Linked DNA regions of Homo sapiens: regions 1, 2, 3, 4, 6 and 7 are each reported to be linked to region 5. Evidence: microRNA targets listed by miRTarBase, many of them from high-throughput screens and not tested one by one. Region 5 holds a microRNA gene; each other region holds the end of a gene's coding sequence.
The links. Region 5 holds the annotated microRNA hsa-miR-548ax (AGAAGUAAUUGCGGUUUUGCCA, at 1,963-1,984, opposite strand). A microRNA usually pairs through its seed, bases 2 to 8, with sites in the 3' UTR of a target mRNA and lowers its output. Matches are read on the target gene's strand: a 7mer-m8 pairs with bases 2 to 8, a 7mer-A1 pairs with bases 2 to 7 and ends in A, and an 8mer does both.

Region 1: the mRNA of ZNF99 is a reported target of hsa-miR-548ax. The part of its 3' UTR that is shown has no 7-base or 8-base seed match.
Region 2: the mRNA of PPWD1 is a reported target of hsa-miR-548ax. The part of its 3' UTR that is shown has no 7-base or 8-base seed match.
Region 3: the mRNA of IER5 is a reported target of hsa-miR-548ax. Seed matches in the 3' UTR shown: 8mer at 3,622-3,629.
Region 4: miRTarBase lists TRIQK as a target of hsa-miR-548ax. Seed matches in the 3' UTR shown: 7mer-A1 at 817-823.
Region 6: the mRNA of SKIL is a reported target of hsa-miR-548ax. Seed matches in the 3' UTR shown: 8mer at 1,803-1,810.
Region 7: the mRNA of RAB14 is a reported target of hsa-miR-548ax. Seed matches in the 3' UTR shown: 7mer-m8 at 862-868.

What each region holds. Positions count from the first base shown.
Region 1 is chr19:22,753,725-22,757,794 of GRCh38, reverse strand. It overlaps ZNF99 (zinc finger protein 99), which reads left to right. Exons shown (of 4, transcript NM_001080409.3): 4 at 1-4,070. The coding sequence ends at 481. Among named protein-coding and RNA genes, the nearest start is that of ZNF99, 28 kb to the left of the region's middle.
Region 2 is chr5:65,586,669-65,590,738 of GRCh38, forward strand. PPWD1 (peptidylprolyl isomerase domain and WD repeat containing 1) reads left to right here. Exons shown (of 11, transcript NM_015342.4): 11 at 585-881. The coding sequence ends at 728. It overlaps TRIM23 (tripartite motif containing 23), which reads right to left. Exons shown (of 11, transcript NM_001656.4): 11 at 3,022-4,070. Among named protein-coding and RNA genes, the nearest start is that of PPWD1, 25 kb to the left of the region's middle.
Region 3 is chr1:181,089,034-181,093,103 of GRCh38, forward strand. It overlaps IER5 (immediate early response 5), which reads left to right. Exons shown (of 1, transcript NM_016545.5): 1 at 1-3,867. The coding sequence ends at 853. Among named protein-coding and RNA genes, the nearest start is that of IER5, 2.4 kb to the left of the region's middle. RefSeq lists silencers at 26-185, 386-605, 1,180-1,474 and an enhancer at 996-1,165.
Region 4 is chr8:92,882,976-92,887,042 of GRCh38, forward strand. TRIQK (triple QxxK/R motif containing) reads right to left here. Exons shown (of 5, transcript NM_001171797.2): 5 at 559-3,760. The coding sequence ends at 3,647. Among named protein-coding and RNA genes, the nearest start is that of TRIQK, 81 kb to the right of the region's middle.
Region 5 is chrX:11,316,694-11,320,763 of GRCh38, forward strand. It overlaps MIR548AX (microRNA 548ax), which reads right to left and starts at 1,993; the gene lies at 1,921-1,993. The region is part of intron 1 of ARHGAP6 (Rho GTPase activating protein 6); the gene reads right to left.
Region 6 is chr3:170,391,984-170,396,053 of GRCh38, forward strand. It overlaps SKIL (SKI like proto-oncogene), which reads left to right. Exons shown (of 7, transcript NM_005414.5): 7 at 276-4,070. The coding sequence ends at 434. Among named protein-coding and RNA genes, the nearest start is that of CLDN11, 25 kb to the right of the region's middle.
Region 7 is chr9:121,177,760-121,181,819 of GRCh38, reverse strand. It overlaps RAB14 (RAB14, member RAS oncogene family), which reads left to right. Exons shown (of 8, transcript NM_016322.4): 8 at 247-3,687. The coding sequence ends at 424. Among named protein-coding and RNA genes, the nearest start is that of RAB14, 22 kb to the left of the region's middle.

The DNA of each region.
Region 1 (4,070 bases), not on the chromosome of region 5:
CAAATGTGAAGAATGTGGCAAAGCTTTTAGCCAGTCCTCAACTCTTAGAAAACATGAGATAATTCATACTGGAGAGAAACCCTACAAATGTGAAGAATGTGGTAAAGCTTTTAAGTGGTCCTCAAAACTTACTGTACATAAGGTAATTCATACTGCAGAGAAACCCTGCAAATGTGAAGAATGTGGCAAAGCTTTTAAGCATTTCTCAGCCCTTAGAAAACATAAGATAATTCATACTGGAAAGAAACCCTATAAATGTGAAGAATGTGGCAAAGCTTTTAACAATTCCTCAACCCTTAGAAAACATGAGATAATTCATACTGGAGAGAAATCCTACAAATGTGAAGAATGTGGTAAAGCTTTTCAGTGGTCCTCAAAACTTACTTTACATAAGGTAATTCATATGGAGAGAAACCCTGCAAATGTGAAGAATGTGGCAAAGCTTTTAAACATTTCTCAGCCCTTAGAAAACATGAGATAATTCATACTGGAAAGAAACCCTACAAATGTGAAGAATGTGGCAAAGCTTTTAACAATTCCTCAACCCTTAGGAAACATAAGATAATTTATACTGGGAAGAAACCATACAAATGTGAAGAATGTGGCAAAGCTTTTAAGCAGTCCTCACACCTTACTAGACATAAAGCAGTTCATACTGGGGAGAAGCCCTACAAATGTGGAGAATGTGGAAAAGCTTTTAACAATTCCTCAACCCTTAAGAAACATAAGCTAATTCATACTAGGGAGAAATCGTACAAATGTGAAGAATGTGGCAAAGCTTTTAGCAATTTCTCAGCCCTTAGGAAACATAAGATAATTCATACTGGGGAGAAACCATACAAATGTGAAGAATGTGGTAAAGCTTTTAAGTGGTCTCAAAACTTATGGAACATAAGGTAATTCATACTGTAGAGAAACCCTACAAATGTGAAGAATGTGGCAAAGCTTTTAAGCATTTCTCAGCCCTTAGAAAACATGAGATAATTATACTGGAAAGAAACCCTACAAATGTGAAGAATGTGGCAAAGCTTTTAACAATTCCTCAACCCTTATGAAACATAAGATAATTCATACTGGGGAGAAACCGTACAAATGTGAAGAATGTGGCAAAGGTTTTAACAATTTCTCGACCCTTATGAAACATAAGATAATTCATACTGGGGAGAAACCGTACAAATGTGAAGAATGTGGCAAAGCTTTTAAGCAATCCTCACACCTTACTAAACATAAATCAATTCATACTGGAGAGAAACCCTACAAATGTGAAGAACGTGGCAAAGCTTTTAGCCATTTCTCACGCCTTACTAAACATAGGATAATTCATACTGGAAAGAAACCCTACAAATGTGAAGAGTGTGGTAAAGCATTTAGTCCTCAAACCTTACTAAACATAAGATAATTCATTCTGGAGAGAAACCCTACAAATGTGAAGAATGTGGCAAAGCCTTTAACCAGTCCTCACACCTTACTCAACATAAAACAATTCATACTGGAGGGAAAACCTACAAATGTGAAGAATGTGGCAAAGCTTTTAACCATCTTTCAGCCCTTACTAAACATAAGATAATTCATACTGGGGAGAAGCCCTAAAAATGTGAAGAATGTGTCAAAGCTTTCAACCATTTTACAAACCTTAATACACATAAGATAATTTATACTAGAGACAGACCCTCCATATGTGAAGAATGTGGCAAAGCTTTTAACCAGTCCTCAAGCCTTAATAGGCAGAAAACAATTCATGCTGGAGAGAAACCCCACAAATGTAAAGAATGTGGCAAAGCCTTTAACCAGTCCTCACACCTTAAATACACATAAAATAATTGATACTGGAGGAAAACCCTACAAATATAATAAAGGTGACAAAGCTTTTAACCATTGCTCAGCTGTTACTCAAAATGAGAGAATTCCTAAAGAAGATAAACTCCACAAATGTGAATAATATGGCAAAGCTTTTAACTGGTCCTCAAATCTTACTGAATGTAAGATAATTCATACTGAAGATAAACCCTTCAAATGTGAGGAATGTGGCAAAGCTTTTAATCAGTCCTCAAATCTTACTGAACATAAGATAATTCATAGTAGAGACAAACACTGCAAATATGAAGAATGGGCAAAGCTTTTAACCAGTCCTCAAACTTTACTCAACATAAAATAATTTATCTTGGAGAGGAACACTACAAATTTAAAGAATTTGGCAAAACTTTTAACTGCTTCTCAAAACTTACTGAACATAAGATAATTCATACTGGAGAGATACTTTACAAATGTGAAGAATGTGGCAAAGCTTCTAACGGGTTCTCAGATCTTACTGAATATAAGATAAATTAGAGAGAAACCCGCCTCATGTGAAGAGTGTGGCAAAACTTTTAACTGGTCCTCAAACCTTACTGAACATAAGATAATTCATACTGAAGAGAAACCCTACAAATATGAAAACTGTGGCAAAGCTTTTAACTGGTTTTCAGACCTTACTCAACAGAAAATAGTTGATACTGAAGACAAACTCTAGAAATGTGAAGAATGTGGCAATGCTTTTAATCAGTTAAACTTTATTAGACATAAGAAAATTCGTACTGGAGAAAAACCCTACAAATGTGAAGAAAGTGGCAATGCTTTTAGCCAGTCCTCAACTCTTGCTAAACAACATAATTCAATGGGAGAGAAACCCTACAAATGTGAATAATGCCATAAGCATTCTTCAATTTTTTTTTTTTTTTTTTTGAAACAGAGTTTCGCCCTAGTTGCCCAGGCTCTGGAGTGCAGTGGCACAATCTCGGCTCACTGCAACCTCCGCCTCCTGGGTTTTCAAGCGATTCTCCTGCCTCAGCCTCCCGAGTAGCAGGGACTATAGGCATGTGCCACCACGCCCACCTAATTTTGTATTTTTAGTAGAGACGGGGTTTCTCCATGTTGGTCAAGCTGGTCTCGAACTCCCGACCTCTGGTGATCTGCCCGCCTCGGCCTCCCAAAGTGCTGGGATTAAAGGCGTGAGCCACCGTGCCCAGCCTAATTCTTCAATTCTTAATAAACAATTTATACTGAAGAGAAACCCTACAAACGTGAAGAATGTTGCAAAGCTTTTAACGTCCTCAAACCTTACTGAACATAAGATAATTCATAATGGAAACTAGCCCTACAAATATGAAGAATGTGGCAAACACTGTAACCATTTCTCACATCTTACCACACATTAAGATAATTCATACTGAAGAGAAACCCGACAAATGTGAAGAATGTAACAAAGTCTTTAACTGGTCTTCAACTCATACTAAATATAAGAGAATTCATACAGAAGATAAATTTTATAAATATGAAGAATGTGACAAAAGCTTTAAAAACATTTCAACCCTTATTACACATAAGATAATTTATGTTGTAGAGAAATTCTACAAATGTGAAGAATGTGGCAAAGTTTTTTTTTTTTTTTTGAAATGGAGTCTCACTCTGTCGCCCAAATTGGAGTGCAATGGTGCAATCTCAGTTCATTGCAACCTCCGCCTCCTGGGTTCAAGCGATTCTCTGGCCTCAACCTCCCAAGCAGCTGGGATTGCAGGCGCCTGCCACCACGCCCAGCTAATTTTTGTATTTTTAGTAGAGACGGGGTTTCACCATTTTGACCAGGCTGGTTTTGAACTCCTGACCTCAAGTGATCCACCCGCCTTGGCCTCCCAAAGTGCCCCAAAGTGCTGGGATTACAAGCATGAGCCATTGAGCCCGGTCGAATGTGGCAAAGTTTTTAATAAGTTATCAAATCATACTGGAGAGAAGCTCTACAAACCTAAAAGACATGACAGTGCTCTTGAGAACACCTTAAACTTTTCTAAACATAAAAGAAATCATAGTGTCAAGAAGCCCTAGATGTGAGTCATGTCACAAAGCCTTTAAATGGTTGTCACACTTGAGTATAAGCTAATTTATCCTAGAGAAAACTATGAAGAATGTGGCAAAATATTTAACCAATACTCACACCTTATCGCATAGGAAAGCATTTATACTTGAAAAAAAATGTACACCTATGAAGAATGTGGAAAAGCCATTAATATCTGCTCACATCTTAACATCACAGAGTT
Region 2 (4,070 bases), not on the chromosome of region 5:
TGGAATTAAGCACTAAGTGATGAAGAAGGGAAAAATGTAACTACCATCTGCCAGGCACATAGTTTTATGTAGTATTCACAGTACTTCTACTATCAGTATCCCCAGTTTTCAATAATAGATGAAGAAACAGTGAGACATGATTAACTTGCCAAAAGGTCAAGTAGCCAAGCTAGCATTTGAACTCCCACCTGTCTAATGCCAAAGTATGTGCTGCATAAACTATTTCAAACTGCCTCTGAATAAACTGTTCAGGTAAGAGTCCTCCAGAGACCTTTTAAAGCCTTAGCCACAATTCTGTAAGCCATGTGAAGTAACTTACCTTTAGGGAAGATCTTCCAGTTCCCTTTGGTCTGAAAGATGCAGATATTTAATTAAACATTATACTATGCTTCTATTTTTTTTAACACACTGGAAATAACTTTTAAAAGCTGCTACATTTTTATTGCTGAGAAATTATTGTACTTCTTTTTAAATATATGCTAAAGGGGAGCGTAAACTTAAATTCTCTTTAATTTGCTCAACCAGAGGATATAATTTAAAGAAATTGGGGTTTACCAAGATTTTCCATTTGTCCTCCAACACAGCCTTGGCTTGATAATAAGCATACAGTATTTGGACGAGTGACTAAAGGAATGGAAGTTGTACAGAGGATCTCCAACGTCAAAGTCAATCCCAAAACAGATAAGCCCTATGAGGATGTCAGCATCATAAATATTACTGTCAAGTAAAATAAGATTTGTTTTAATGTACTTGCAAATAAAAATACAATATTAAACAGATTATTTTACATTAGGAAGCTTAGGACTTGCTGAATATACAGATCATGTTTCAAAGATACAGTATTTTTGTATTTTTTATTAAAGGCTATTTTTTAAAAATTACCTTTGACTTTTCTCGCAATATTTCTAATCCTGGGAGGTGATAAATTGAAATGGACTAAACTCAGGCAAATAGCACTCATTATAGGTAATTTCTAATCAGCCTCAAATTAAATATTAAATAATTACAGTACTCTCCTCCACCCCCTTTCCCATGGTTTTCTTTCTACTGTCAACCATGATCCAAAAATAGGTGAGTACAATACAGTGAGATATTTTCAGACAGCAAGACCACATTCACTAACTTTTATTACAGTATACTGCTATAGTTGTTCTATTTTATTGTTGTTAATCTCTTACTGTGCCTAATTTATAAATTAAACTTTATCATAGATATATATATATGAAAACACAATATATATGGGGTTTAGTATCATCTGAAGTTTCAGGCATCCACTGGAGGTCTTAGAAGGTATCCCGTGCGATGACAACTCTATTAAATAATGACAGTGGTACACAACTGTGCTTTAATTTTGAATACCTGCCAGATATTCCGCCCTTATGTTTAGAAGAGTGCAGATCCCTCCTATAAGAAAAAAATACTAGGATATGATATTATATGTCATTTCCTTTGTTTTACAAGGTTTCAATGCCAAATATTTTAGTCTTTTGATAACTGTTTAGTAAGTAGTGGTGAGTAAAGCCTCAATAAACAGGAAGTTACTTTGGTCAAAGTGTTATATTCCTTAATAATTATGAAATATTCTTTCAAATGAAAGATTCAGAATAAGTGAATACCTGAGTCCTTAGTTTATTATATGCAGGTTGATTTTCAGATTATTTTTCTAACATAGGTAAACAATTTTTTCTGTCCTCAAGTTATAGTATATCTTTAGAAAATATACCATTAAGAAGTATACATAAAAATTTTGGTATCTAACAATGGAGAGATTAGTAGAAATTGGAGCAGTAAAACAATATGAGCACAAATTCTTATATTGATCTTCTTCACTTACACTTATAACTAACTTCATAACTATTAAGACTCACTGCTTCGTTTCCAGAAAGAAAGACTCTTTCTTTCAGAAACTTACAGGAAGAACATTCTCAACAGACCTGTGTAGGGAATTTATATTCTTAAGTTTTAAATCGGCTTAAACTTTTCCTTCTATTGATCAGCAGGATTCTTTATTTATTTCGTGCTACAAAGTTGTGAGATAGATAGGAGATTATGCCAGATTGTGCTCCTGTAATGTATGCTCCTTTTTAAAAGTAGAACTTAAAGTTAGACATGAAAATGACTTTTCAATGTGACATTTACTGTTTCTAATTTTAGTTGTTTAGTCTTACCTACCTAGCTTTATTCATTCCTAAAAATTTAATCTAAATTTTTGGTAATATTGCCACCAAGTGGTGATGATGCCTCATTCCCCAACAAATACAATTATTTTGCTTTGAGTGAAAACCATATTTGACTAATGAATTTTTCGATTAATATCAAAAACTTAATCGGCAGACCTAAAAACATACATTGCCCATGTCTTTTTAAAAGCATGTTTTAAGTTATCAGGATATAATTTCATCCTTATTCATTAGTCCTTTTCATCCTTTATTCTTTTAGGGAAGAATACAGCTGTCTTCTTCTTTGTTAGCACTTTGCCAATTGAGAAGTATCCCAGTGTTACATAAAAAGCCTTTCTCTTAGCAGTATTAGTTCATGAGCTACCACTAAGTTTTGCAAGCCATTTTCTAAAATGGTCATTTAAAATACTATGTTTTCTTATGAAACAAGTTTACATTTAAAATTTAAAAGGCAGTAACAAAGTTTCACTTCGTTCAATGTAAAACTTTAGCTCCGCCTTCAAAACACTATGGTTATATTACTTATTTAAATGTGGCCTGCACATTACTTCTCGGCCTTTTGGCTAAGATCAGGTGTAGTTAAGATCAAGTTTAGTATCTGTTCTCATCAGTAAATGTGGCCTATGTTGCAAATTCAAAACGTTATTTCTAAAATTTTGCTGTATCAAATAAACTACATCTCAAATTTGACAGGCATGCCAACCCATACCCATTTTGTTTTATTTTCTCTCCTAACCACAGCACAAATAATGACTTCTTAAATTGGTTACAACTAGCAATAATATTAGGTAGATGGTTCAAGAAAGAGACTTTCAAGAATAATGATGGGACTTCTTAAAAATGATCTTAACATTTTATTGCTGTCTATACTTATCATATATGTAGTGCAAATAATGGCTTCTGATGGTTATAAAGCATTCCTGAATTATAGACTACGGCTATACACTTGACATACCTGCTTTATATAACATACAGTAATATTTAGACCTAATACAGAAATTCAGCTACTAGGAAAATTCTAATATACTGTATATAAAAAAGCTCTCTTCTTAGTTTCCCAGGGAAGACTAGCACAGTCTTAACTAATGATTAGTGAAATAATACAACCACAAATAGTAATAGGAGCTTGAGAAAAATATTTCTTTAAAAATGAATCACACACAAACACCTACCATTATACATACATTATAATCAGGCACAATTTTTCAACTGTGTTCAGTTATATGCTAAGAATGTGCATTACAAAGTTTAGCAAAATTAGTGAAAAGGGAAGCAAGTTCACCTTAGTGTTACACTTTTTCTTCAATTAACTAGTAAACAGTTCAAGTTCTCACAAGCAATACAACACCTTTTTTATTTTTCACAGTTATTGAAATCAGTCAAATATTAAATAATTTAATTCGGAAGTATTATTTATGCACACAAACTACACCTGTAACAGCATGACCTTTTACCTGAAAAATAAAGGATGAAATATTACATTTATTTATTTACATATTGCCCATAATACTGATAGGCTTTTTTTTTAATGCTTTGTTTTCTAAAACTTGTATTGTTTTTAAACAAAAATAGATTTGAAAAGAATGAACCACAACAGTGCTACCAAAAAGTCACATCTTGTTACCAGACATCACTGTCCTTACAACAATTCAACTAATAAGATTTAAGATTTAACTTCATCCTAATGTATCAGAACATTAAAAAAAAAAAAGTCTCAATGTACCTATTTAAATAAATCGTGCTTCCATAATAATATTCTTTAAAAATGAAAAACAGTAAAGAGCACACATTTTTATTTACTCACAACACTGAATAATTAATGTAAACTTTTTGAATTTTTTTTTTCTTTAGACATTTTTCCTCTAGAGTAACTTTTCAAGGCCTTCTCAT
Region 3 (4,070 bases), not on the chromosome of region 5:
CCAAGTCTACCTGAGCGACCCGTGCCCCGGCCTCTACCTGGCCGGTCCCGCTGGGACCCCGGCGCCGCCACCGCAGCAGCAGCCCGGGGAGCCGGCGGCCGGGCCACCCGCCGGCTGGGGAGAGCCGCCCCCGCCCGCCGCTCGTGCCTCTTGGCCGGAGACCGAGCCGCAGCCGGAGCGCTCCTCCGTCTCAGACGCGCCGCGGGTAGGGGACGAGGTGCCGGTGGCCACGGTGACTGGAGTCGGGGACGTTTTTCAGGGCGGAGAGGCGGACGCGACGGAAGCTGCCTGGAGCCGCGTGGAGGGGCCGCGCCAGGCGGCGGCCAGAGAAGCCGAGGGTACCGCCGGAGGCTGGGGCGTCTTCCCCGAGGTATCTCGTGCCGCGCGCCGCCCCTGCGGCTGCCCCCTAGGCGGGGAGGACCCGCCGGGTACACCGGCCGCGACCCCCCGCGCTGCCTGCTGCTGCGCGCCGCAACCAGCGGAGGACGAGCCCCCCGCGCCGCCCGCGGTGTGCCCCAGGAAGCGCTGCGCGGCGGGGGTGGGCGGCGGCCCAGCGGGCTGCCCGGCGCCCGGCTCGACCCCGCTCAAGAAGCCCCGCCGGAACTTAGAGCAGCCGCCGAGTGGAGGAGAGGACGACGACGCGGAGGAGATGGAGACCGGGAACGTGGCTAACCTCATCAGCATCTTCGGTTCCAGTTTCTCGGGACTCCTACGGAAAAGCCCCGGGGGCGGCAGAGAGGAAGAGGAGGGAGAGGAGAGCGGTCCGGAAGCCGCCGAGCCCGGGCAGATCTGCTGCGATAAGCCGGTGCTGAGAGACATGAACCCCTGGAGCACAGCCATCGTGGCCTTCTGAGCCCTTGGCCCCCCTGCGGGGAGGAGGTGGAGCAGCGGGCGTCCCCGAAGTGAGGGCCAGGCCCTTCCCGGCTGCGAGGACGCCCAGAGACCGCGGGCGCTGAGCGCGTTGGGCAGACTGGTTGCCTCTGGGCATCGCAAACTGCCCCCGGGCGCATCTGGCTTATCTGGAGACCTGGGAGCTTGAGGCTCATTGGAAGAGGACGATCGTTAACTTTTGTGTTTGTGTATGTCTGTGTATGTAAGTTTGTCTTGTGGCATTAAGACTATTTTGCTCTTCTGGAATGCACCACTCCTTCCCCAGGGTTTAAGAGATTGGGGGCAGACAGGGACTTTCCTCTGCCGGCTGCGTGGAGAAGGAAGCGGCTAAAAGGTTTGGGCCGGGGAGTTCCCCATTCGTTCTCCGGGGAGGGAGGGACTTTACACCTACCCCTCACCGGAAAGCTAGACCCGCTTCAGGGCCAGGAGTGGCGTTTCCGCACAGGATTTCCTAAGACGAGAGGGATTTAGCCAAGAGCACAGACTTGGATTCCTTCTGTCCCTCCCCACCTTTCTCTCCCAATGAAGAAACGTTTATATCCTGTGATTACTCTAGGAAAGGGGCGTATTAACGGTCCTTTGCTTCCCCGCAGGGGAGAAAAAGCTTGACGAACTTCACAGAAGAGTTCAAGCTTGGAAATAATGGAGTTTATAGAGAAAAGATATATTTTTAAAAGCTCTAGGTCAGAAGTACTACACAGTGCTTTTAAAAAGTGTTTAATGAGAGTTTACAGACAGAAGCCCGAAGTGGAAAGACCTTATGGTTTTGTAGATATGGTGACTCCAGTCTTTGTTGTATAAAGGTTGGGGGAGCTGATAAGGTTTTTGTACAGTATTTTCTCCTTCGTTGTATTGATTTTTGTATAAAAATGTAACTTCTACGTGTCTAACACGTATTAAATATTTTGAAGCAACGTAACTGCCTGCTTGTCTGTAATAACCTGCCTGGGTTGGGAGGGAAGTGGGAGGAGGGAAACCAGGGCCTGAGCTAGAAAATTGAAGGTGTGGTTCTTAGTATCAGTCATTCGCAGACTGAGGACATTGTTTACTGACTCCACTAAGTATCAAGAGAGACACGTTTAATTTTTCCTCCTAGATCAGAGGACTGCTATTAGATACTAATATCGGCGACCTGTCAGGTTCTAGAAACCTGCCACTACAACTGCCTTTTCTAAGGTCAGTTTAGACCAATTTGTCACCCAATATGTGGGTGTCTAATACTAAGTAATTTAACCAACTTTTGAAGCCCCGCTTATCCACAAAAATGTTTTTCAGCAAAACTTTGTTTCCTGTTAAGCTATTAATACGGGTCATCTTTTAGCTTTGTAATTGAAAAAAAAAAAGTTTAGATAGTAGTTTACCTTAAAAGCCCATTCGAACTGACATAGGAAGATGAAAGAGACTGACTTGTCCAAATTGTCAGGTCCACCTCTGCATCACAGTGGATGTCAGGATGTAAATTTTCAGTTTTTCTCTTACATCTAGAAAGTAAATATATTGCTGAGAGGGAAATTGTTTGCATCAAACCAGATAAGGAAGGAGGGCTAGGCAAATTTAGTTCTCATTTAGCAAAACTTCCTGATTTGTTTTGTTACTTAAATGGTGACATCAGTGTTTGGTCATGGTAGACACTTAGGTGATGATAGCCAAAACATCCATCGATTTTACTAAAATCACTGCCATTAAGAGAGTTTTTTGTCTCTTCATGTTCAATGTTTGAAAGGTATTCAGTAATCTATTTCAGAAGCAAATCAATTAGGGAATGGTGTTTATTAAAATACGGTACAGTTGCCAGGACTTTAAAAGATGGTACTGGTTTCTAACAACTTACGAGTATATAGGGTATTTAAAAGATGGGAGAGATTGAAGAAAGACAAAGGTTTAAAGGTCATAGCCTTCGAGCATAAGAGGCATATGAATGGTGTCTTGGCCTTAACTCCCAATTATACGAACTTCTGTTTTAGCTGAATAGGCCAGTGCCTCGTGCCTTGATATTTCGGCAAATCTATTAGTGGTTCCTTAAGCATAGGGAACTTTGTACTTTATGCTCTGTCGCCATAATAATGTATTTATAGAATTAAACATTCTCAAATTAGGGTCTTGTTAAACTGACTTTTTCTTTCAGAAAGTAGCTACTTAAATTCTGTTACAGCTACAAAAGATCCATCAAGTGCTGACTGCTTAAACTGAAGAAGGTGTCCAGGGCCTTAATTCTGCAAACATTTCCTGTTGTTAGAAAGTATGATGCTTGAACAGCGATCTCAGTGTATTTTATGTTTTAAAGGGGGTAACGTTTGGTGTGTTTAAGAGAGCTGATGTGTTTTGGATGAGACTAAAGTTGATCCTTGGTTTTACATTAAGATGAACCTGGGTCCATGTGTCTGCTTAAAGAATGTAAATTGGCATACTTGATAGGAGGATAAAGCTTTGTAGGAATTAGAAAAGATCATTCTCTTTTTTGTTGCAGAAGCAGTATAGTATAGTAGTTAGAGCATGGGCCCTGGAGCCAGGCTGCTTGGTGTCTTCCTTTATTTATTTATTTATTTAATTATAAAAAGTAAATATAAAGTGAGCTATGTTGACCAGGTTCGTCTTGAACTCCTGGCCTCAAGCAATCCTCCTGCCTCAGCCTCCCAAAGTGCTGGGATTACAGGCATGAGCCACCACAACCTGGCCTGCTTGGGTTTTTCTATCTTGGCTCTGCCACCTAGCTGTGGGTCCTTGGACAAGTTACTTCATCTCTCTGTGCCTCAGGTTTTTCAAATGTAAAATTGGGATAATTGGATCTGTCTCATAGGGTTGTGAAAATTAATGAGTTAATGCTCTTAGAAGAGTACCTCATATGTAATAAGCACGCAACTGTTAATTATTGTTAATGTAGAAGTTAATTCTGTGTATAAATCAGATACACTGTGGTCAAAGATTTGTGTGTATTTGTAAGAAAAGAGGAGAATGGAGAATCTATTTTTAAGTGGTCCTATGTGTGAATGCTGGGTTCTTTTATTCCTCTTTTTCTCTGGACACTTGGCAGTCAGGAAGCTTTGTTCTACCAACATAGTTTTGTTGCTGTGAATGTCTCACACCAACCGGATGATTTTTCCAATTGTATCAAACAACTCTATTTTCAGGGAGGAGTAAGCTGAAGTGAAAACAGGCAAGGAGCAAAGTTCTTGTTGACA
Region 4 (4,067 bases), not on the chromosome of region 5:
CAGGCTGCATTGGAGCAATTCTAATAAAAGAAGGCAGTGCTGCTAAGGGAGAAGTGGTAGGAATCTCCCAGAGAAGCCCCAGGTAAGTGTAAAGAAGTCTAATTGTTGGTGAGGAGAGAATACAAAATTATCTTAGGTAGTCTCTGGCTCAACAACTTTATGTTATGGATGAAATACATTAAAATAGGCTGGGTTTAATTTCTAGAAGTATATTTCTGACGCTGATGTATAGCACAATTTGCTCTACTGAATTATCATTGAGTATATAATTTTAGAACCTGGAAAATACAGTGTTTTAGTAGTCACATAAACATTATAATGAAAATTGAGTTCTATTTTCATTTGGAGTGAAAATGCATGCTAAGTTGAATTCAAACATTGAGTATAGTTTTTAATAAATTCTAAGATAAAAATAGCATATTTGATTCCCTAGAAAAGAGCAATGTTTCTATTTTATAGCGACCTTAATGCTAGTTGTCTTGATTTAAAGAGAATCAGGATGAAACACGTATATATCTCAGTACAACCAAGGACCATAAATGGTAAATGCCGAGTTGATTGATATTGTGATTTTTAAGTTTTATTGATTAAATTCAAACTTTTTTATCATTTACACAAAGAAACTGTGACAGACTCTGAGAGGACTAAAAGGCATCAACTTAAATTTTAACATGCATTTATTAAATTTATATGCAGATGACTACACTACTGCAATTACAGAAATGAGTAAGAACATACTCTCAAGATCTTACAGTCATTGGTTGGGGTGAAAGTATTTCTTCTGTCTTCATGAAAAATTAAAAAGATAGAAAATCTTGAAGTATTTTGCTACCTTAAAACAACTACCCACCCTACATTTGTACTAAAATAGGCTTTTGCTTGTTTTAAAAGCAATTCTAGATGAGGTTATATTTTTACAATACTGTATCTCATCTCAAATAAATTTATACATTCTTTACCCTGTCTAAACTTGCATGCAAAATAAGAACCAGCAAGCCTTCAAACTTCAATCACAGTATTCCATAGGCTATATTTTAAGTCTATTGCATTAGTTGAAATTTATTTTGCAGAGTATGTTAACAAACATATTCTAACACTTAAAAAATCATTACAATTTTTTCTGTTTTTGTCTTCTAAATTACTCTGAGCAGTGAATTACTGGAGGGAAGATACCCATGTCTAAAATTTGTGTCTGGTGCCAGTCTCAGATTTCTGCCAAACACCAGTAGGTATTCAAAAGTGTGGTCCCTTTAAAACAGCAGGCCGGATATCACCTTTCTGTCTTCAAAGATTCAAACCAGACTCCCAATCTGGGATTTCTCTACAGAGGGTTGGCTGCTTCCCAGTTAATGTGAGTTTTGCAAAGTTTGCATTTCATGAAAACAGTGTTGTGTAAACATATATTGTGTCACTTTACCTACTATTTACTAAAATCAGAGAGTTTAGCCTTTGAAATTTATGGTTCTCTGGAGCTATCATAAATCAATCAGTCATACGAATGGACTAGCTGTAGACTCAGGATATCAATAAAACTAGGCAGTGAAATTTGCCTATAATTATACTATATTTAGATTAATAGTTATCAAAAACATTTTTCCCCAAAAAATACCTCAAGGGTAAAACAGAATGGTAAAGTTTTTTTCAGGATAATGAATTTTCAAACATTTCCAAGACCATAACCAGCCATTTTAAGTACTGTAAACTCTGTTATATTTCATTTGGATAAGTATCTAATAAGCAATTATTACATATCCTCTCATTTAAATTACCACTGAAAACTAGAAATAATCTTTATTTAATACGACTGTTTTAACACCATATGGAACGGGAAATAACTAAATGAAAATTGTTCACGTAAATGTGATGGGAGTGGGGGGGTGGGGAGCAGTATTTCTTGACATGTGGCATGTCACTCAGGAAAGTAAAAGGCCCATCATATCCAAAATGCCAGCTTGGATATTCCCTTGCCACCCACTTGACGAACAGACATACCACATGGCATTAAATGCTGCAACCTTTCCTAAAAATGCCACTTGGATTGGTCCGCTGTGGTGAGTATATAAGAACTCTTGGTCTGTCTCTTGAGTCTGTGAGTTCAAAGGGAAGAATCTAGTAAATAACACCGGCTAAATTTTGCCCTCAGATGTTTGGCATAAATGATTTGTGAGGATATTGGAACCTTTGGCTGTTTTCACACCAATGAAATAAATTATGCTACTTGAAAAAAATTCTACAGAACATAATGCTACACAGTCACAGTCGACTTTTTGCAAAAGTACCAGAGAATATCTTTTAGAAACAGTGCTTATAAAGCCCCATATACTCCTTAGATATTTCCCAAGGATTTCTTCTCTTGGCTAGCAGGAAAACAATCTTAATATTTTATTTATTCTTCATAAATACAATGTATATAATATAAAACACTTTGTGCACATGTTTCCAACAATTTCATTTTCTATGCATCTTTACATAAGGTAGTAGCTAATAACTCTTTCTGTGGACACGTATTTTCCAGTTTTCTAAGGTTTATGTGTTCAAGCATTGTAAAAACATATTTAAAAATTGAATTACCAGTAAAAATATTGAATGTACAGGTCATTATGCTCCCACAAATACAAAATACATTGAAAAATTATATCAACAGATAATTACATATGAAATATGAGGCATATATTTTCTTCTATTATTTATTTTCTCCCTAAAGAGTTCTAATTGATTAAATCTCAAGAGACAAAATGTAATTTTATAAAACAACTGTATTGTTCAGATTTAGGAGACAACCTAAGAAGATGATTCTGAGTAGGTAGGATTTTTGCTATTACTGTTATGTGAAAAAGACTGCTCAATTAAATGACAGATTGTTACATATCTCCCTAACAAGAGGGGCGAACTGATACTACAAGCAGCCAGAACAACATAATTAGAATAGAATTCCAAGGTTATATTAATAGAGTAATAAGTTAATTAAAACCAAGATCAACTGAGCTTCTATTTACACCAGTTCAGACAGCCCAAGAGGAAAAGAACTCTATTTTAGAGACATATGTGACTCTTTGAGCTTCTGTCATCCAGGTGCCATTTCTGATGCAGCACATGTGCACTGAACAGTTGGCAAAGAAGGAAAAAGATTATGGTAGATGTATGTGCAGATAGTCTCTCTAATGATGTAAAATACGTCCAGAAAGAAAGCAGGGCTTTGTTGTAAAATAAAAAATTTCCCATGACTTTTTGTTCTTTCTGAATGTGATTTGAGCATGTTTCTGTAAATAAGAATATATACTAACTTATGATGTATATAGAACAAAAATAGACTTACTCATCAGGAAGTGATGGAATTATACACATAAATTGGCAATGACATTTGAAAAATTTAGGATCTGGTTCCCATTTCATCTAAATGTACCATGTATAGGGTGGCTGTCAAAGCAGAAAGATATATAAAAGTATCCAGTAGCACATACTATACTGCATTGCTAGGTAAGGTTCTTTTCCTGACATCCTATGCAACTATCAAAAATCATATGTCTGCAAACTGAAAATATTAGCAGAAAGAATTAAAGATGTTACAGTTTCAGTATTGAAAGTTTTGGTCCCAAAAGGTGCTTTCGTAAAGTTATTTCTCTTTCATGCATTGATTGTTGCTTAGCTAATCTTCATCTTGGTCCAGATCAGGGTCAACATCCGTGGTGAGTCTGAGATAAAAGAAAGCATAGAAAGCCAGTAGTAGTGCCAATATAGCTGCAAGTACAAGGCCAACTTCCTGGGAAGAAAAAAAAAGTAGACTTGAAATTGATGAAAAAAGATTGGTTAACATTATTAGTTTCACCAGATAAAATAACCATATTGTTCCACAGTCTAGAATGAATAATTTGAACCTAATAATCATATCCTTTTTGTTTACCATTTTTTGCCGTTAAGAAACTGTTTTGTACTGGCAAGTCCCAATGAAATGGCAAATACACCAGTGGGTGAGTCATTAGTATTATTATTTCTAGCTAATTTGTTTTTTCCTTATAGTAATATTAAAAATGTATCATTTTAATATATTTTTATAGTTTGGATATCAG
Region 5 (4,070 bases):
CAACATCTCTCCAACCCTCAGCCCCACCCCCAGGTTCTGGAAAGCACCATTTTAGTCTCTGCATCTATGAGTTCAACTTTTTTAGATTCCACATGTAAGTGAGAAAGTGCAGCATTTGTCTTTGCTTTCTGTGCCTGGCTTATTTCATTGAACACAGTGTCCTCCAGATTCATCCATGTTGTTGCAAATAACAGGAATTTCTTCTTTTTTAGGGCTGAATAGTAATGATGCCTGAATTCCCCTCTCTTGCTAATAACAAAATAGTACTATTATATGACGGGTATTTATTGTTCTGGTTGACAGTGTATAGCATGGACATGCCACATGCATTTTGGGGCTCAGTGAGCTGATCTTGGTAATACTGTTCCCCACCCACGATTGATCTCAGAACCCAGGCCTAAAGCCTTTTGTACTATAGGCACCAGCATGTGAGGGAAATGTGGCTGGAAGCCTTTGGAAATGTTTCCTAGAATGTAAGTGAGTTATAGGCAGAGGAAACCTTTCTTCTTCTATGCCAGAGTTACTCAGCACTATTGACATTTTGGGTTGGATCATTCTCTCTGGTGGGGCTGTCCTGCACACCGAAGATGTTTAGAAGCATCCCTGGCTTTTACTCACTTGATGCCAGTAGCACCTCTCCACTTGTGACAACCAAAAATGTTTCCCGACTTTGCCAGATGTCTCCTGGGGTGGTCACCCACAGTTGAGAAACACTAGCTTAGACATCGTCATATTTATCCCCAAACTGCCACAGGTTCTGTTGCTATCAGCCTAGAGGTGACACTTAGAGGGACATAAAATGAAGAGCACTGCAGGAAAAAGGTCAAGTCACTGGATGAAACCCTACATACTTATGGATTTTGGTGACATGAGCCTCTAAAATTCCTAATTATTTAAGGTGGTTTAAATGGATTTTGCTTTTATTATAAGCCAAGGGCATCAAAGTGATCCAAGGTCCAGAATCACAGGCCACTGTACATTGCTTTCTTCCAGGGCATCATACTGCTTGGAGAAATGACACCGGCCCCACCTTAGAGCAGGATTCCATAGTACAGCTTTACATGAAGGATGGCAAGTAGAATGGCTCATTTTTCCATTTCATAATTATTGCTTATACACTGTTGTTATGGAATTATAGAATTTTAGAGCAGGAAGGAATTTTAGGGATGGAGAATTAAGCTAAAACCAATGTCTATGTTTATCTTCAAAGGAAGGCCTTCAAAAGAGGATCAAGCCCGGTGCCTCCAAATATTAGGGAAAGTGCCATTATCCACTTCAAAACACATCCTGAGCATGACAAGTCATGTTACATCTTGTGTTAAAAGCAAAAGGAAATATTTTCTTATAGCCACATACCCTTAAATATTCCCTTCTCCATAAATGGAAATTCTATTTGGCTTTAACGTCTACATCAATTATCTATTTACAGCAGACTTCCTGTCATTTCCAAAAGCAGAGTTGTCATTTAATTCTACTATCCAGCAATATTGCTTTTAATGTGAAAAATGATGAATAGATACAGCTGGCATAATTGCTGGACTTTAAGTTCATAGCATAGTGGGGAAAGGAAGAAGATAAAAAATACAATCAATTTATTTTACTGTTTTATATATATACATATAAATCTGCATTATCTTTGCTTATAACAGCAATTTGAGCTTACAACTAATGTAATCATAAATATAAAAATAAGCAAAATGAGTAAAATTAAAATCATCCATAATCCAACAATCATTGATTATGTCTTAATGAATATTATCCCCTATATTTTTTGCATATTGAAATTTTCTTCTCAAAAAGTATCATATTATTTTGCAATCTACTATATTTAAAACATCCCCTTTTATCAGATATTTAGCTGTTACTTATTCATCCCCATTGTAAACAGTGCTGCATATGAATAGTTGGCTGAAATTATTAGGTTGGTACAAAAGTAATTACGGTTTTTGCCATTACTTTCCATGGCAAAACCGCAATTACTTCTGCACCAATCTAAATAAATTATATATGCTTAGAAAGAAAAATGGAAGGATAAAACACAAATGAAGAAATTCTGAAAAATGGACCAATATGTAGGATATTGTTGGCTTCAAAATCCTGTGAGGATTCAACTGTTGATCCAGTCCCCAAAGCAATCAGATCTACCAATGGATAAGAACCAGGGCAGACAGCAGCTGCCAAGAAGACAGAGGGGAGGGAAGAGCAAACCAGTTTTGCAGTGAAGGAAACCACCCAGGTGGCAGACTTGATGGAACAAACACTTTAAGTGAACCTAATGGAAAATGGTTCAACAAATGGACCACCAGTAGATTTTCTCAGTTTATAAATGATAGACCCATTGCCTAGAGAAAAGAACAGCTTTTATTCAATCATATAATAAGTAAAAGGAAATAATTTGCTCCTCTAAAAAAGTCCTGTGATGGTAACTCCACATTTCTATATCTATATCTATATCTATATCTATGTCTATCTATATATCTCTCTCTCAAAATATCTGTATTTATATCTGTATTTGTATTCATATTTGTATTTATACCCATACCTATACTTGTACTTACATATGTATGTGTCATTGTACCCACATATCTTGCCAGCCATCCAACCATCCATCCATCTACATAGAAGTGCTTCTTAAACTGGAGTATGCATCAGAATCCTCTGGAGGGCTTGTTAAAACACAGATTACTGGGCCCCATCCCCAGAGTTTCTGATTCAGTAGGTCTTCAACAGGGCCTGAGAATTTGCATTTCTAATGTTTCAGGGTGATGCAGCTGCTGATGGTTCCGGGATTACACTTTGAGAACTGCTGCTTACACCTGTACCCCTCTCATTCTCTCTTTCTATCTCATTACCAAACTCTAATTTAATGAACATACAGTTACCCGCACATATTTTGATTCATTATCAATTGTCAATATACATCACAGTGTTAAATACTACACAAAATAGATATTATGCTGATTTCAAATTTCTCTCCCCTTAATTTAATAATAAAATTATAAGATACAAAAATTATTACCATGTATATTTTTCCTCCCAGGAGAATACTTAAATCGTGGTACATTTCTTGCTTTTACTTGGTTTTCACTGCCTTTGGCTTCTAACTTGATGTATTTACATCTTAATGGTTCAGATTTATTTTCCAAACAGTGAGATGAAACAGGGACAACTCAAAGGCAGCTTCATTTTGAAATTGGCCAGGCTTTTGTAAACAAACCCTTGACAGAGCAATTTCTAATTCTCTAAACAGCTGGGGGGGAAAATATCACACAGAAAAGCAGATGTTATTCGCGTAACTTCTTTTTTTCAGGTCTACAATCATCATCTACAGCACCGGATCCACCATATCACTTCAAGTAAATTTTGACTTTGCTAGGTTTCAACCACATTACTCACATTGGAGATGTGAGTCAAAGAATAAAGCTTCTCAGAGACAGCTCTGTGGATGCCTCTTCATGTTAGGTTGACAGCTTTTGATTTAAGCGTTCTGTTAGCTCATGACTGCAGCATGCAATAGGAACACAGTTCCTCAGATGCCAACCCTAACCTAAATAAAAGCTAGACCGGCATCTCCTCAGGGTCAAGTTAAAGAATATGGGCTGTGCTGTCTCAGACCTCAGCGGCTACCAATTAGTGGGAGACAAGACATGTATAAAAGGAAATTTAATTGGTAATTTTAATGGATAAACAACTGCAGGGTTGAGAGAAAGAGGTCACTTGTGCTGGTGGAGTTGGGGAAAGTTTCATATTCCATGCATTCAGATCTTGAGAAACAAAGGTTATATCTCCAGAAAGCAAAAGGCGGACATTGAAAAGGGAAGCAAATCTTTACAGATGAAGTCACAGCAAAGACAATCTGGAGCCAGGAATTAACGTGTGACAAGAGAGGGAATAATCCCAGGGATGATGAATTTTACTACTGAAATGATTATAAATTACAGCCACCTACAACCTATTGTGAATGGCTTTTATGGTATCAGAACAGAATAGTTAAAGGAATAGGAAAAAATCTTGTGCCCTAATGAAGAAAAGGGAGATGTGTGTTTTGCTCAATTCAAAGAAAATATCTC
Region 6 (4,070 bases), not on the chromosome of region 5:
AACATGAGCAGGCTGTGATGAGCGGTATAGTAAAGTATAGGGCATAATGAACATGAACATGCTGGATGTGTTCCTTCCTCTTGTTCCTTTGCTTTTTCTTAAATTTAGTGTCCTGTCAGATGTCAGATTAATAGTATTAGATGCTTAATGGATTTAGTATACATGAAATAGTTCGTTTTGTAAAAAGTAATTTGAAAATAGATATTTTCTATGATATGAGGATTAAATGGAAAAACAAAACAATTAAAATTGATAGCGCCTTTTAAATCACATAGTTGGCAGAACTGAGGCAGAGATTGGACCATGCTGAGGCCGATAGGCAAGAACTCCAAGATGAACTCAGACAGGAACGGGAAGCAAGACAGAAGTTAGAGATGATGATAAAAGAGCTAAAGCTGCAAATTCTGAAATCATCAAAGACTGCTAAAGAATAGAAACTGTTAAAGAGATTCATCTGTGTATTACTGACAAGGTTTTTTTTGTTTGTTGCTTGCTTTGGTAATTGAATTCTGAAGAATTTATCTGCATGACGATAACTAGGCATTCTATCCATTTGTAGATCAGAGAAAGTGAAGAGATTATATATTAGTACTTAAATTTTTACATTTTCCAAATGAATGAAAATGTATGTTTCTTTGTACTTTTTTAAAAAAATCAGCTTAGTAACAATACTATATGGTTTCAACTAGTAGGTAATCTGCTTATATTTCTAATGCAAACTTAACAATTGTGTACTTTTTAAAAGCTGCAATATGTGTTGGAAAATAGCTGTGGTCAATTTTGTTATCCATATTTCAGACTCAATTTTAGATACAATGGTGGCTTTATATTTTAAGTATATAGAGCTACTCAAGGAGTTGAATCTCCCCTTTTCTCATTAACACAATTTTTCTAAGTTGATATGGTGTACTCATTAACATACACCAAATTTACTTTTACTTTGTTCAGATTGTGGAATGAATTTCCACCAGTTCTCTTCTTTTTAATGTGTACCCTAGGAGGAATTTTACTGAGGTTATAGCATACCCCATGAGCACAGTGGGGAAGAAGAATGTGTTGTTATGTGCTGCTGCTAAACAGAAGCAGCAGTTGTAATTTGTTTTTCAGTTTAAATGTGGTTATAGTTAGATTTTTTTTTAAGCAGCAACTTTTCAAAAATAAAATGTGATAATTTCTGAACTTTTGTTTGTGTTGTTAATAGTGGTGTGAAAATATTAACGTTCTTGAGAAAAACTGATACCACTGTTGTGTATCAGTTTCTATACAATCCATAATCCTCCTGTACAGTTTTTACATGTAGTTATGAGTCTTACTAAAATTTATATAATGGACTTGTTTTCCTTTAAGTTGTAAAATGTTAAACACCTTGAAGGTTATTTTGGACTTCTGTATGTTTAAATGTTGTCTTACCAAAATTTGCACGAATGGACCATTTTCATTTACTACTTAATATCAAAATCAGGAATTTACAGTCAACTGATAGTACATGATAGGTGCATATAGGACAGTTTAGTTACCTGCTACTAAAAGATTTTTAGATAAGTTTTAGAAGATAAAGGAATTCCATAGTTTCAGGAGGGACAACATCTTCTGCACTTTTTTTTTGCACAGAAAAGTCTGTCATTCTCTAATGGCAAATTTCATATTTGTTAATTCTTGGCTCAAAATATATTAGGTAAAATTCTTAGATCTGTTTTTAAAGGGAGTTTCCTGAAACTATCATTAATTGACATTATTACCCCATGGATTTTATGGGATAATAAATGTTTTTCATGTTCTCTTATAAGATACTATGTATGAAATTACTTCAGAGAGCTATATTTATTTTAAAATAAATTAGCTAGGGTTAAGGTTATATTCTATTTCCAGCATAGAAGGTAGATAATCTAATGGTGTAGAAAGAATCACTAGGTTGTCATTTAACCAGTTATTTTCATATTTTGCTTAATAGTACATATCCAAAAAGAATTTTGTACTTCCCCAAATGTAATTTATTTACTAAATTGAGTATAACCTAAATGTGTGTTTTCTATTTTCCATTTAAATTTTGCTATATTAAGACTAATTTAATTCGTTGAGTCTTGGAATCTTCTCAAGGAGGAACAAATATTAAAATGACATGTAGAAACAAATTTTTTTTTTTTTTTTTTTTTTTTTTTTTTTGAGACAGAGTCTCGCTGTCTCCCAGGCTGGAGTTCAGTGGTGCAATCTCGGCTCACTGCAAGCTCTGCCTCCTGGGTTCAAGCCATTCTCCTGCCTCAGCCTCCCGAGTAGCTGGGACTACAGGCACCCACCACCACTCCCGGCTAATTTTTAGAAACAAATATTTAAAATGACATATTCTCCCAATACAATCTATTTAGATCTGGAGAAGGAAAAATCAGATATTTATGATATAGTTTTATTTTAATTTTGAATTATTTGTGTCACAGCTCAGCTTTTTGGAAGACAAACTCAAACACCTATAATTTCATTTATATTTCTAATTCACTTGGAACCTTTCTGCTTTATGTTACCTAGAAAATGATAATTTGTTTAACCCAAAACTTCTAAAATAAATTGCTTAATCCTTGAAATATGTTATTGGAAAATTTTAAGCAGTGCTTAAACACCATTAAATTATTATGAACTTGTAATTCAGAATTGAGTAAAGAAATATTTTTTCTAGTCCTTCATATATTGAAAACTTGCCACATGACATTGTATCGTCTTCATTTTCCAGAAGATGCGTTGGTGTGCCATAGGTTTCTAACTTCCTTGAAAATAGTTTTTTAAGTCAATTGTAAATATACGTATTATTGTTAAAAGTAACTTTAAACTGCAACACATAGCTTCAAAACAATATAGAGATTTTGTAATACCTTATAAGTGGAGTTGGCTAAAATACCTTATCCATATAAAACTTATTCTATTCTTTGCATGCTTATTTTGTGTGTTGGTTGCTAGCTTAAAGTTTGATTTGTTGTTACTCTTTGTGTGCCAAATTCACTAGGCAAGCGGATTTTTCCTCAGACTTCAAAAAATAATTCTTTTAAGAAAAAATGTAAAAATGTTTATTCTAAAAAGCTGCATTAAAGGGACAACCTATAAAAAGTTTTGCTAGCTCATCTTTAGAAGGAAGAAAGAATATTAGCTTGGGTGATGTTTAATTTGGGTGGCGATAGTTTCTGTAGGCTAAACTTTATGAGAAAAGTGTACCTACTCTATAAAGGTAATAAATGTAAAACCTCTTGCTGTTATTGAGGAAGCTCTTCAACTACCCTAAATTTCACAAATGTAACTTATAACACTATGAAAAGATTTGACCAACAATTTACGTTTGCTGTGTGCTTTAGTTTTTGTTTAAGCATATTCTTTTGCTTGAATTTCTGTGTTCATGAGAGTTAGGGTGTTTTATGCTTCTTGAACTAATTTTATAACATATTTAATATATTACCAGTTAAGATATAAAATCATTTGTACATAGCGAATTGTAAAGCAGCTATTAAAGTAGGTGAAATAAAGTATATATTTGCCGGTTATCCATATCTTTTAGAAGTCCTGACAGAACAACCAGTTTATTTGCACATAGGTAGCTTCTGTTTGAAGGAAGGTAAAGTTATAAGGAAACTCAAATACTATAAGATGTGTCAAGGTATTTCTCCAGAATTAATTGCAAAGCTAGTGCTGAAGGATTTTAATCAGCTTCTAAAATTTTCTTCTCAATAAGGCATATGTTTTGATTACTTAGGGAAGATTCCTCATTTTTATTTGCCCTTTATGCATTTAATCCACATGATAGGACATTAAAAATTAATATAAAGAAAAATCGTGCTCATACTGTACATCTGTTTCTGTGCTTGGAACTACTTGTTAATAGTTTTTATCGAAGCTGTCAGCAATAAGGGACATAAAACTGCTGTATTATACATTGTGGAATTGAATAAACAGCCTAATTTTTTTTTTCTAGTATAGGGTACTTAAGCATTTCCACTTTTGGAAGAAAAGTGTATTAGTATTTTATATTGCATTTCATTTAAAAGGACAGTTTTTTTTTTTTTTTTGTAAATCCATTCATTGAAATGGTTTCT
Region 7 (4,060 bases), not on the chromosome of region 5:
GCTGAGATCGGGCCACTGCACTCCAGCCTGGTGACAGAGTGAGTCTCTGTCTCAAAAAAAAAAAAAAAAAAAAAAGGAAAATAGTTTTCCATGTTCTCTTAGCTCAGTGTTCTGGTAATCTCTTATTAGATGACAGTGGTTAAGTTGGAGACATCATGGCAGTTAACTAAAGATTAGCAAAAGGTCAGTGTCTTGTCTTTTGTAGAAAACTGTGGTTCTCCAATAAAGTTATCAATTGCCTCTTAGGGGAGAGAATGTAGAAGATGCCTTCCTTGAGGCTGCCAAGAAAATCTATCAGAACATTCAGGATGGAAGCTTGGATCTGAATGCTGCTGAGTCTGGTGTACAACACAAACCTTCAGCCCCGCAGGGAGGCCGGCTAACCAGTGAACCCCAACCCCAGAGAGAAGGCTGTGGCTGCTAGTGACCTCTTTGCTGTGGCCCCTCATTTGACCTTTCACCTCTGTCTGTTGGAAGCAGTACTTTTTACTGCCTCATTGTCTTCTGTACATCTTACTGGGTTTAATTAAAAAAAAAGAAAAAACTCTGTTGTAAAAACAGTTTAACACAATACTAAACTGCTAAACAACTAGATGTAATCAGGTTATCAAAGGCAAGTAGAGTAATAAATCTCTCCTGCATGGTAAATCTAGACTTTTTTTCCCCCTTGTCCTCGTGATAAGTATGTCACCAATATATGATTTAAACCGAGCACTGATGCTGGACTTCATGATTTTTACCCTCCCTTTGGCAAGGCTTTGTCTCACTGTACGGTTTAATTTGGTGATATCTTAAGCCTTTCTTCCCATCCTTAACTGTTCAAGTATGTCTGTTGTAACCAATAAGTTTATTGCTGTGAAATTACTTCTGATGGTAGAGAAGGGGTTCTATAACTGCTTTTGTTTTGTTTTGGATAAATTTCCTGTTGTGTGGGTGGCATTTTTCTTAACGAGATTTGCTTCTGTCTTAGCCTCACACAGGGAAAATATCCATTTATCTTCTCTCTCGTGCTTAATTAATAGCTTTATCTTTTTTTATACCATTTTATCCTTTTCTCTTTAACAGAAAGTAAATATGTATAAAATTTGAAGGAATCGAACTAACAATACATTCTGTGTATATTATTTTAATGAAGAAAATAAATTGATTACTGGCATTGGAACAGTATAAAATACCAGTTTGTACAGTATGACCTATATGTGACCATGTTACTCCCTTCCATTTCACACAAAGAAATAGACACAACTGCAGTTCACAAGTAGTACTGGCTCCACCCCTTGGTGCTGGCAGTGTTTGGGGACATTATGCTGGAAAGAGCTCCTAGCATCAGAGGATTAACACTAGCAGATTCTGTTCCATCTTTGCACTGTTGCTTACCTGCTGATTTTCTTAACTGTTCTTGTGCAATCGACAATGTGCTAACCTGCTTTTCTCTTTTTGTAAACGTTTTTGCATTACAGGCTGCATTCTTGCCTTACTGTATAGAAAAAGAAAAAAGGCTGGGTTTACTATTGCACATTTTAAGCTTTTATACCTTTATCTTCTTGGAATGGTCAGATTCTGAACTGGACAGTCAGAACCACAGGTCTGCTGTTAAGGGATTTTAAATTGTGCATTTTTAACCCTACAGTGAAATAACTTAAGATATCCCTGTGTTCACAGTGTGAGGGGCTGTTTTATGTCATGTTGGCATAAATTGTTTTGTAAAAGGGAAAGTGTTTCTAAAGGTGTTTCAGCGCTTGTGCTGATACAAAGTAAGTTATTACTTTGCACCAGGTGGTTTGGCCACTGAATTAATACTGTATAGCAAGAGAAACAATCTTATTTTTTTGGACAACATGTTTTATTAAGTTCTTCATTTCTGTTGATTTTTTTTATTGCATTTATGATTCAGTGGCTGGGAATTGAGAATTTATTTGAAATAGAATAGGTAACACCTCAGCGTACTATAGAAAATGCACTCAGCTCAACTGCTGTGTTTAAAATACACATTTTAAATCCCTCTTTACAGACACTAACATAAAAGTACATCTTTCTGGGTTGTAAACATGTGGTAGTACCAGAGTATTGTATAGTCAATGTTAAATAAAAGCCAAAACTGGAATGTGCAGAAAGTAGGCTTTGGTTAATTTGTGGATTCATTTTTATTTTTGTCTTTGTTTAACTTTTTAAAAAATAAGATTTCTGGAGTAGATTGGTATATTCTGTTAAAGACTTACAGTGATCCATTTTGCTTACACTGTTGCATCACAAGGGACTCACCCAGGGACCATGACCTGCTGGTGTGTGTGTATATTTACAAAAACAAAACAAACAAACCACCCATTGGGATATAAGGTAGCAATCACAAACTAAAGACTGCGGCTTGTTGAGGTGCAATACCCTGACTCCCAAAGTTAGTTACAGTGGGTTTTATTGTTTTTGTGACTGAAGGATTTATTCAGACTGCTGTACTCTTCATTTGATGTAACAAAATGCTATTAATCTAAATATTTGTAAATAAAGTACCTGTATCTAGATTAAATTAAAATTGGTTGCATTATTTTCTGAACTATAATAGGGTTTTTCTTCAGGTGAACAATTTGACGTGTCATCAGTTTTTATTGCAGCACTGTCCATATTCATTGTATAAAGAGAGGTCTACGTATGTAGCATATAAAACCACATCACTAAGTAATAGACCCACAGCTTTATTCTTGTGTTTACATTACCCTTGAAATGTTTTCAGTCAACCCTTTTCAGTGTAAGATCAGCACATTTGGTGGCTGATGCTGTTCTCCTTTGACTGTACCGGGAGCCAGATTCTATCATATGCATGTGTAATCCCCTGTAATACACTCAGGTGCTCACAAATAGAGCAGATTGTCATATTGTAACATGCGTGTGCCAGACACCGGGCAGTACACTTTGGAAAGAATGTGAAATCCTTTTAATTTTTAATCCATAGCTTACTGCTTGTGCAGTCACCTGCCTCTTGAGGTTGCTCATTGCCCTTGGACCTGTGAGGAGGCCTTCAGATTAGTAATTGGTGCTTAGTACTATTTATGCTTAAATAGATCTTCCAGTACAATGTTGAAGTCTTTTTTATGGATAATAACGTGTTTGATGGAGTAACTTATTATTTTTTTTTGGTTGGTGGTTTACACGTTAATAGAGGTAGTACAATTTCTTTGGAAAGGTGTCTTTTGAAGCCAGCTGTTAAGCTTCATACATTACCTCCCTTCTCAAATTCGGTAAGACAGTAGTTTTGGGGAACTTTTTTGCCCATGTGTCTTTTAAGTGTGATTTTAAAAAAATGAGTGGTTCAGTTCATTCCCCTAAACAGAAGAAAAGACCAAATAATTACCTTCCATTCCTCTTCATGTGGGAATATAGAGAGGGTTCATGTGGCATTTTAGAGAAAAGATAATTTATCCTCATTCAACACAGGCCCAGAAAATTGTGTCCCAGAAGGATGTCAGTAATTGTGACTAGGCCAGGCCTTTTAGCATTTTGCTAAGACTTGAAACAAAAAATGTAAATACAAAAGAAATCAAGTTTTGTTTTGAAAGATGCCTTCTAGAACTTACTGTGTATTAATAAATTGTCACTTTCATTGTCTTTATTGTAACTCCATTGATCCCGTATCTTAACGGTTCACGTCTAGCCAAATAACTGTTTTGGAATAAAAACCTTGGTGGTGAGGGATGACTGCACTGTGCTGCTCTGTATTATTAGTAACAGGGTAACATACCTGTTGTGACTCAAAAGCTGTCTAGTAGTGATCTAGAAAAGAGTTCCCGAGAATATTTTAAAACTTCTTATTACATATTTCCCCCTTGGGAATAATTATGCCAGACTGTGAGAGCAGTTGCTATTCTAGTTTTTAAAGAAATGTATACATCATGGAGTTGAGCTGTTAATTATGGTAGTTCAAAATCTGAAAGGCAACACAATTTGAATTTATCACTGGGTCACATTCTCCAAGGTACAAAGTTTTCCTGATTTTCCACCAAAGAATATGTTGGCTAAGGAAAGGCATCTGAAGCATAATAGTTTTATAATTGATGTATTTCCAAAT